2 separate regions of the Homo sapiens genome follow, and region 1 is linked to region 2. The links come from fine-mapping of genetic effects on gene expression. Tissue or cell type: whole blood. Region 2 holds a variant in brackets; the other region holds the start of a gene. All regions are shown on one strand. Distances are between the middles of the regions.

Region 1 (5,178 bases), 67 kb before region 2:
GTACAGTGGTGACGTTATGTTTAAAAACAGTATTAAAAGTTTAAAAAGTCACTAGGCTACAGTGCATGTGTTTAGAAAATGTGTGGGAGGATCAATAAGAAACCTGACAGATGTCCCTACTGCAGAGGAGTCTTCATTTTATGCCCTTTGGCATTGTCTGAATTTCTTAGGACAAATATGCATAATTTTATTTTTAAAATATAGTAGACCTCTCATTACTGACATGGAAAGATATCCTCAATGGTATATAAATGAAAAATGGGGGTTATACAACAATTTACGTATTGTGTTTTCATTTATGGAAAAAATTACATACTTTTTAGCTGTATTAAAATTCTCAGAAAGATATACAATCAATTAATTTTAAAAATACAGGATTTTCTACTTCACACATTTATACATTGATCTTTTAAAAGAAAATAACTTTTTTTTTTGAGACAGGGTCTCGCTCTGTTGTTCAGGCTGGAGTGCAGTGGCACAGTCATGACTCACTGCAGCCTTGAACCCCCACCTCAGAACCCCAATTAGCTGGGAATACAGGCACGTGTCACCATGCCCAGCTAATTTTCTACTTTTTGTAGAGATGGGGTATCACTATTTGCCCAGGCTGGTCTTGGATTCCTGGGCTCAAGCCAGACTCCCGCTTCTCAGCCTCCCAAAGTGCTGGGATTACAGGTGTGAGCCACCAGGCTTGGCCACTATTACTTTTATAATAAAAAAAGATAGCTCAGTCAGGTGCAGTGGCTCACGCCTGTAATCCCAGCACTTTGGGAGGCCGAGGTGGGCGGATCATTTGAGGTCAGGAGTTGGAGACCAGCCTGGGCAACATGGTGAAACCCAGTCTCTACTAAAAATACAAAAATTAGCTGGGTGTGGTGGCGGGCACCTGTAATCTCAGCTAATCGGGAGGCTGAGGCAGGAGAATCCCTTGAACACAAAAGGCAGAGGTTGCAGTGAGCCAAGGTTACGCCACTGCATTCCAGCCTGGGCAAGAGAGTGAGACCCTGTCACACACACACACACACACAAAAAGATTTCACTTTGGGTAAAAAATAATTACAAAACTTCAAAAGGGAGAATATCATGAACCACTCTAGCTGCAAACCAATGCCAGAACTATGTTAGATCTCCAGAAGACAAATGGAATCAATCTGAATCCAAATGTACACTGAATTTTTGATAAGACTGCTCACTCATAGAAGAAAAACTATATAACAGATTGTAAGAAAAAGGCTCTCTGCATGATAATAAGGGGGTAGGCAAAATACAGCCTTATAGCTGCAAGTTTAAGAATTGAAATTCTGCCGGGCACAGTGGCTCACACCTGTAATCCCAGCACTTTAGGAGGACGAGGCGGGCGGATCACAAGGTCAGGAGTTTGAGACCAGCCAGACCAACATGGTGAAACCCCATATCTACTAAATATACAAAAATTAGCCGGGCGTGGTGGTGTGCGCCTGTAATCCCAGCTACTCGGGAGGCTGAAGCAGGAGAACTGCTTGAACCCGGGAGGCGGAGGTTGCAGTGAGCCAAGATCGCACCACTGCACTCCAGCCTGGCGACAGAGCGAGACTCTGTTTAAAAAAAAAAAAATTGTAATTTTTTGACATTATAAAACTGTGGTATTTAAGTTTAGAAAGGTATTCATTACACAAAGAGGTAAAGATGGGCTCACAATTTGCATCTTACCAGAGGTTATATTAATATTTCCAGCTTCGATCCCTGCTTTAAGTCCGTCTTTCCCCAAAATCCCAGACTCTCCTTTGGCCAGACGCTCCCTCTCCTTCTCTTCCAAACTTCCATAATAGATGTGTGGTTTCTTCACGACCGGAGCAACTAAGTCGTCGGGTGCTTTAGTTTTGGTTGCCTGCTAAATCAAAGATCTGCATTAAACTAAGGTTTAATCTTGGCAATTTACCGGACTTCACCAGAGGATGAAGCTCACCCTGAGTTTCACAGTCCTGTTTCCTCTGTAATTGAAAGGACAAATTGGACACTACTTAAGACGCTCTTCATTGATTTGAGGAGGTGAAGGTAGGGTGAGGGTGTTTCAGTCCCTCACTTTGGTTGATGGGATTAATAAAACTAGTGAGGTTCTCTCGGGTATTTTCCTATGAAAGGTTTGCTCTGAAATCTGTTTACTTCATTCCGTTGGAAGTGTTCAATCTCGTGTTTTATGCTTCCCGGATTACTGCTTATCACTGGGGAAATACTAAGGATAGATGAAATAACCAACGCGGTGCTAAAGGATAACAAGTTACAACATTACAAGTGTATACATTTCAAACGTTCCTAGACGTGAGGTAGTAGGAGTTAGTAGGTCTCATTAAAATTCTGAGATCTGCCAAAGGCATAAACCTTGGCCAAGACACTTCCCTATTTCAGAGCACCGTTACTGGATGAGTCGGAAGAGATGCTTGCCCTTTGGGGCTGTAGTGGGAGAGGTGCAAATAAGCTACAGTCCACGAAAGCGCTTAGGGATCAGGAAAACGGTGGTCCGCTGTGTAGGACACCGCTGAGTCCCGCAGCCTTCCTCCTCAGCCCTCCACCGCCTTCTCCCGCTCCTTAACGGCCCCTTCCCGCAGAGATCCCCTTCCCCCTTAGCGCTCCCTGCCAGAGTGAGCTGGGATCCCGGGCTCTGTACCGTGGAAGAGGCTCGCGAGGAAGCCATGCTGGGCTCTGGAGCCGCGAGGCCCCAGCGAAACCCGAACACTCCCTTTCAGACCGTCCACCGCGCGCCCAGCAGAGGGGAAGTGCGTCACTGACAGGAAGTGCGTCACTGACAAGACGTGGGCCAAGAGGGGTCACCGCCCCCGGAGCGGCGCGGAGCATGATGGAAGTCGTAGTAGGAAATGGCGTCGTGGCATTGAGGGGCATCCCTCCTAGAACCTCCAGGAAAAGCTCGCGGAAGACGAGGTTCTGCGGAGAGAGAGGCTCCAAGCAGTCTGGGAAGTGTAGTCCAGTTGGCTTAGCAGTAGTTTCGTTGGGGGGGAGCCGAGGTTCCGGGAAGGGGCTAGGCCGGCTTGAAAAGAGGTAGGTGAGTCGACTCGCGCGGCTCGGGGCTGAACTCTGGAGCGAGTCAAGGGCTTCCGGGGTCCGCTGTGCCCCCCGGGCGTACGGGGGCGTTTACGTCTTCTTGGAGCCGAGGACCATGTTACCATAGAAACCCTTGCCTGGGCTCCGAGGTACAGGCCTGGAGCTAGGGGACGAGGACTGTTCTCCTCCATGGTCCGGAAGTCTTCCCAGGCTCCCCCTCTGAGCTTGATGGCTCGGCGGTGGATTTGGGCTGCGGCGGGAGATTAAGCTAGAAGAGCCCGCTAGTGCCAAAGTCAAATAAAGACCCGGCGGAGGAGCTTCGGCCTGATTTTGTTGATTTGTCTTCAGCCTGGTCTTTGTATCAGATTGAGAGTAAGATGATGGATAGGAAGGTGTCAGGTAACTCTGTACGTCTCTCTGCCCTGCTGGATGCTGGGGCATTAGAGACGAACAGGATAAGGTTTTTATCCCCACATGGGCGGTGGGAGATCCTCAAAATATTGACGTTTCCCTAGCTGGCCAGATCCTCATGCAACCCCCTAGAACAATTACAGCAATAATAGATGTTATTTATTGAACATTTATTAAATGCCAAATAATATTCCAAGAGCTTACTCTGTATTACGTTATTGACTTCCTACAACAGCAGAGTAGGATACAGATGAGGGAACTAAGGTCTAGTGAGAAATGAAACGAATTGTTCAGGATCGGTGGTGTAGTGGGATTAAAACCTGTGCCCTTTAACCTCTACAGCCAGCACTTTTAACTGTTAATCTATACTGCTCCCTAGTGGCCAGTTTTTTGCAGTTTGCAGAAAAGGTAAAATGTATAGATTTTTTTTTCCCCCTTTTAGGTATCCCTATCCCTCTCTTTCCCTCTTTGGAACTTTGGCTTTCTCTACCATTTGTCTGCATTGGAATCTGGTAGAAGATAATGCCTGATTTAGTACAAAGGAATTTGAAATGTAATGTGCCAGTGTTTTGTGTTGATAATATCACCTGTAGTATCCTAAGCTTCATGGGAGAAGGAACTATTTCTTCCTTTGTATACTTCACAGTCCTTAGTTTCATCCTAGATACGTGTAATAATTTGTATCTGTACATACTTTCAAGGAGTTTTCACTTCCATCATTTTCACTTAATGCTTATCATGTTGACCTTTATAATTTTTATAGGAGGCTAAAATTATTAACCAAACTGAACAGCTTGCTTCGATGACTTCTTTATGTGTGAAATAGGAATCATTTTGTCAACTTCACAGGGTTTTTGTGTTAAAATAAGAATGTAAAGAATGGGAATGGAAAAACAGCACGGTGCTCAAGAATGATCTCACCTTCTAGTCAACAAACATTTACTGACTGTTTTTATAGATACACTCTAGGGGATGCTGTGGAGAATATACAAATGATGCCATCAACAGATATTAAACTCAGTTGGGGGGTTGTGTTTTCTCAAAAACAAAACAAAACAAAATGGTTTTTGTTAACATAGTATTACCTTGGGATTTCAGGCTGTGGAATGCTCTCTTGAGCCTTTTTTTTTTTTTTTTTTTTTTTTTGAGTTGGGGTCTCATGGTGAGGTCATGGCTCACGGTGGCAACCTGAAACTCCTGGGCTCAAGTGATCCTTCCACCTCAGCCTCCTGAGTAGCTAGGACTACAGGTACACACTACCAGCCCAGCTATTTTTTTTACTTTTTTGTAGAGACAGGGTCTTGCTACGTTACCAAAGCTGTACTTGAGCCTCCTTGTGCATTCTTCTCTCTGCCTGACCTTCAGAAGTCAACTAAGACATCATTTTCTCCAGGAAGGCTTGCCTGACATCCTTGTCCACCCCACACTCAGCCCAGACTGGATTAGGTGCCTGTGTGATGCCAGTGCTAGTATCCTCATCAGGGTTCTCATTACATGATATCACAGTTTTCTCTTTGTTTTCCCCACAGATTATGACTGTACCTTTTAACTTTGTAGCTGGAACACAAGAAGTGTTTGTTTAATGAATGACGTACACATTTAAGATCTGTTTGGACGCGGAGGATAATCCTGTGAATTGGTGAGTTGGAGTTTTCCTGAGATTTAGCAAACTGATTTTAGCATTCAAGAGTGATCACAAATCTCTGACAATTCTCATGTAGGGTAGATTAA
Region 2 (5,082 bases):
ACCCAGGAGGCAGAGGTTGCAGTGAGCCACTGTACTCCAGCCTGGGCAACAGAGCGAGACTCTGTCTCAAAAAACAAAACAAAACTGAAACAAAATAAAAACAAGAGTGTATTAGGGTTCTCTAGAGGGACAGAGCTAATAGAATATACGTATGTGTGAAAGTGAGTTTATTGAGGAGAACTGACTCACACGATCACAAGGTAAAGCCCCATGATAGGCTGTCTGCAAGTTGAAGAACAAGGAAGCCAGTAGTGGATCAGTCCGAGTCTCAAAACCTCAAAAGTAGGGAAGCCGACAGTGCAGCCTTCAGTCTGTGGCTGCAGGCCTGAGAGCCTCTGGCCAACCGCTAGTGTAAGTCCAAGAGTCCAAAAGCCAAAGAACTTGGAGTCTGATGTTCGACGGCAGAAAGCATCCAGCGCAGGAGAAAGATGAAAGTCGGAAGACTCAGCAAGTCAGCCCCTTCCACCTTCTTCTGCCTGCCTTATACTAGCCACGCTGGCAGTTGATTAGATAGTGCCCAACAAGATTGAGGGTGGGTTTGCCTTTCCCAGTCCACTGACTCAGATGTTAATCTCCTTTGGCAACACCCTCACAGACACACCCAGGAACAATACTTTGTGTACTTCAATCCAATCAAGTTGACACTAAATATTAGCCATCACTTCGGGAGGCCGAGGTGAGCAGATCACGAGGTCAAGAGATCGAGACGATTCTGGCCAACATGGTGAAACCCTGTCTCTACTAAAAGTACAAAAATTAGCTGGGCATGGTGGCGCTTGCCTGTAGTCCCAGCTACTTGGGAGGCTGAGGCAGGAGAATTGCTTGAAGCCGGGAGGCGGAGGTTGCAGTGAGCCAAGATCACGCCACTGCACTCCAGCCTGGCAACAGAGCAAGACTCCGTCTCAAAAAAAAAAAAAAAAAAAGCCATCACAACTGGCACTAGGATTGTGCCTTAACAGGTTAGATGGAAGGGTTAGCAGCCTTCCAAAAGTGACATGCCAGGTTGTGTATCCTTGACCAGTCTGGCTAAGCTCACCCCCAGTGGTGAGTGCTTCTCTAAGATCTGGGATCCTGATTTCTAGCAGCTAGATAGCGTGCGCTTTGTTGGGAACTGATGGAGAGGTTCGAAAGCAAGGCCTTCTGCCCCATATGGACACCGCTCTCCCAAACTCTGTCCAAGGCACTCTAAGTAGGCACTGTCCAGTGTTTTGGTGAGAAGGAAGACCTACTTTTCACTTCTTTTATCTGGACAGGTTAGCTGTAGGCTCCATCCTGAGCCTCCACCCCTCTAGGGCCCCACTCTAAGTCACCTCATTAGCATTGTCAAAAGATACAGTTATAACACATGGAGTTTTAAGATCTTAATTGGCTTTTATTTGAGATTCTAGAATTGGGCAACACTTCATTCTATAAAATGGAATGTTGTGATGAGCTGAGCAGAGGAGGTTGGCTTTATAGGCAGAAAAGTGCTGAAGAAAGCAGAAACAGAACAAAAAACAATTGGTCATTTCAAAGTTACTTTTGTTGTGTAGGTTAAAGCAGAGAAGACTTCCTTCCTTATCATGCTGGCTAAAATTGGATTATACAAAAGATGTTCCTACCACTCTTATCACTCAGGAAATTACAAGGGATTTGGGAGCAGTGTGTCAGGAACCAAGGACAAAGACCAAACATATTTCATATTATACCACAGCCTATAGGCCCTTTACAGAAAATGTTTGCCGATCCCTGCTTTAAATATTACCTATTACTTTAGGCAGTTTTGCTGTAGGTGCTTCTCTTATTCTCCAACTCATAACCTGGCCAGATTTCTAGTAGGCTATGCTTTTATATTTCCTGTGGCACATCTCTTCATCAGCAGTGTGCTTCAGAGTTAAAGTGGTTGAGTTAATGGGAGAAAAAGAAACAACCTTAGTTCCCACCCAATGAAAACACTTGGTTTTTTATTTTTATTTTTTATTGTACTTAATTTTAGAAACAGAGTCTTGCTTTGCTGCCCAGGCTGGAATGTAGTGGCTATTCACAGGTGCCATCACAGTGCACTACGGCCTTGAACTCCTGGCCACTGCACCTGGCTAACTTGATTATTTAAATCAGAAGACAGCAACTATGAGTTTATTACACTTTTAGCAGGGAGCTATAGAAGCAAGATTGCCTATACAGTTTTCTTTAGGCATTTACAAATAAATAAAGTAGCAATACAGAAGTCCCTCTCTGTTCAAGGGAATTTTTTTTTTTTTTTTTTTTTTGAGATGGAGTCTCGCTCTGTCACCCAGGCTGGAGTGCGGTGGCATGATCTCAGCTCATTGCAATCTCTGCCTCCTGTGTTTCAAGTGATTCTCATGCCTCAGCCTCCCAAGTACCTGGGACTCCAGGTGCACCCACCATACCTGGCTAATTTTTGTATTTTTAGTAGAGATGGGGTTTCACCATGTTGGCCAGACTGGTCTCAAACTCCTGACCACAAGTGATCTGCCCACCTCTGTTTCCCAAAG[TGC/C]TGGGATTACCTGTGTGAGCCATCTCGTCCAGCCTGAGGAACAGTTGGACAGGATGTAACCAAACCTTAAATTTTTTATACTCCTTTACCCCATAATTCCATTTTAAGGAATTTATTATAAGAAGATAACTGGAAGTACACACAAAAATGTTGCATTTTAATTTATGTGTTTCTGTATTTTCTAAGTTTCCTACAATGCACTTGTACTCTATAATCAGAAAAAAAAGTGTTAATACAGAAAAAATCAAACGAGTTCTTTCAAAATATAAGTTCTTGCATGTCATGTCCGCATCAGTATTATCTCACTACTCTTCCATCACATTCATATAGTGAGTATAAATGTGATTTACTCTTAACATGGTATTTGAAAATGTTAGTGTTACTCTGTAGTCCCTTTTTTTTGTTGTTTTTTTGTTTTTTTTGAGACGGAGTCTCATTCCATCACCCAGGCTGGGGTGCAGTGGTGCGATCTCAGCTCACTGCAACCTCTGCCTCCCAGGCTCAAGCGATTCTTCCTCTTCAGCCTCATGAGTAGCTGGGACTACAGGTGCGCGCCACCACCCCCAGCTAATTTTTGTATTTTTAGTAGAGATAAGGTTTCACCATATTGGCCAGGCTGGTCTCGAACTCCTCGTGATCCACCTGCCTCGGCCTGCCAAAGTGCTGGGATTACAGGCACGAGCCACTGCGCCCAGCCTACTCTGTAGTACTTTGTGAAGTTAATTAATGGGTGTGATTTAAATATCTTACTGAATTTCCCACCCTAGAAGACAGGGAAGGGGAAATAACTTTATTTTCATATATTATAGCTGTCAAAATACTGGAAGGAGAAAATAAAATAGATGGACTATCACTTTTTAGACAGTACTCCTTGTCTAGCCAAAGACTTATTTGGGGTGTGTGGGTTGGGAGTTGGAGTCATGGGTTTCAGACCTAGGCACTATCATGGTATAATTGTGTGAGGCACTTGGGTGATTAGAACCTCAGTTTCTTCACCCCCAGACTAGATCATAGGGCTGCTTTGTGGATCAAATAAGGATAATCATAAAAGCATTACAACACTGACTGTAAATTATAAAGATCAATTTTGAAGCTAGTTCAGTGGTTAAAAATTAGTTTAAGGCCAGGTACAGTAGCTCACGCCTGTAATTCCAGCACTTTGGGAGGCTGAGGCAGGTGGATCACGAGGTCAGGAGTTCAAGACCAGCCTGTCCAACATGGTGAAACCCCATCTCTACTAAAAATACAAAAATTAGCCGGATGTGGTGGCACGCAACTGGAATCCCAGCTACTCATGAGGCTGAGGCAGGAGAATGGCTTGAACCCGGGAGGTGGAGGTTGCAGTGAACCGAGATCACGCCACTGCACTCCAGCCTGGGTGACAAAGTGAAACTCCGTCTTTAAAAAAAATTAGTTTAAAGCAAGAAGTGAATGACAACTTTGTTTTCTTGTTCATCTTCAGGAAATCAGGCAACACCAAAAACAGCACCAGCCACCATGAGCACTCCCACAATACTGGTCGCAACAGCAGTCCATGCATATCGATAGTAAGTCGCTGAGAAGGAACACCCTCTGAAGTTTGGTGGAAGGGCGTGCAGTTAAGCTACTTTTTCTCGAAAAACCTCTGTTTGTTGCAAAACGGTTATTTAGCCCTTCCACGGACAAAATATCAGTAGAACTTTTAACATCTGAATTGGAGATTTCTGTGGTAAAACTTGAAAAGCCATTATCTTGTCTACTGTCTTTAGGGAGTGCTTGTACCCTCAACAGCTGTCAAATGCTCAAAGAAAGCCTCTCCACTGAGATAGCATGAATGATAGATATTTATATTTAAAGAGTAAGGGAATAGTATATGAGCTTTAAATTATAAACTGCTGGGCCGGGTGCGGTGGCGCACTCCTGTAATCCCAGCACTTTGGGAGGCCGAGGCAGAAGAATTGCTTGAACCTGGGAGGCAGAGGTTGCAGTGAGCCAAGATCATGTCACTGCACTCCAGCCTGGTGACAGAGCGAGACTCTGTCTCAAAAAAAAAAAAAAAAAAAAAAATTTTAAACCGCTCACCTGTGTCCCTGCCTAGAGGCTGAATGACTGTTGTTCCCACTTCTGTATGACAGAAAAGAAAGCTGGTTCTGCAGAATTTAGGGAAGTATTAATACTTGTTGTTTCTCTTCCTTTTATAGCACAAATGGTCAATATGTAAAGCAGGGCAAATTTGGTGCTGCAGTTCTGGGGAACCACACAGCCAGAGAGGTGAGAGTGCTCCCACATCTCATGTATATTCAGATGTCCCAAATAATACCAATGAGCTGGCTTTTATCTGGCTTGCCCGATGTCTTGTTTATCAGAAGATAAGGATGATTATTTGTATTGAATGTTAATTTATAACATCAAGCATATAGTAAATGATCACATTTTGCTTACTATTGTGCGTTAAAACAAATCCAACCATTCAAAATTGTTAAATTTGACCTTTGTGATATGATCCTAGCTTAAGAATTTGGGCATTTTTTTGTTTGTTTGTTGTTCAATTGTGGGGTGCGTGTGTACACACACATACACAAATACACACATATATATACACATAC

Evidence for each region. PIP is the estimated chance that this variant, and not a neighbour inherited with it, causes the effect.
Region 1: CDC26 starts here. The variant in region 2 is fine-mapped to the expression of CDC26 in whole blood (TOPMed, PIP above 0.99).

The regions. Positions count from the first base shown.
Region 1 is chr9:113,273,237-113,278,414 of GRCh38, reverse strand. CDC26 (cell division cycle 26) reads left to right here and starts at 2,843. Exons shown (of 4, transcript NM_139286.4): 1 at 2,843-3,033; 2 at 4,977-5,086. It overlaps PRPF4 (pre-mRNA splicing tri-snRNP complex factor PRPF4), which reads right to left and starts at 2,757. Exons shown (of 14, transcript NM_001244926.2): 1 at 2,645-2,757; 2 at 1,690-1,867. The coding sequence starts at 2,671. RefSeq lists enhancers at 2,770-3,109, 2,877-3,732.
Region 2 is chr9:113,206,174-113,211,255 of GRCh38, reverse strand. It overlaps FKBP15 (FKBP prolyl isomerase family member 15), which reads left to right. Exons shown (of 28, transcript NM_015258.2): 3 at 3,960-4,044; 4 at 4,678-4,747. Among named protein-coding and RNA genes, the nearest start is that of FKBP15, 13 kb to the left of the region's middle. The variant TGC/C (reference allele first, on the strand shown) is at 2,496.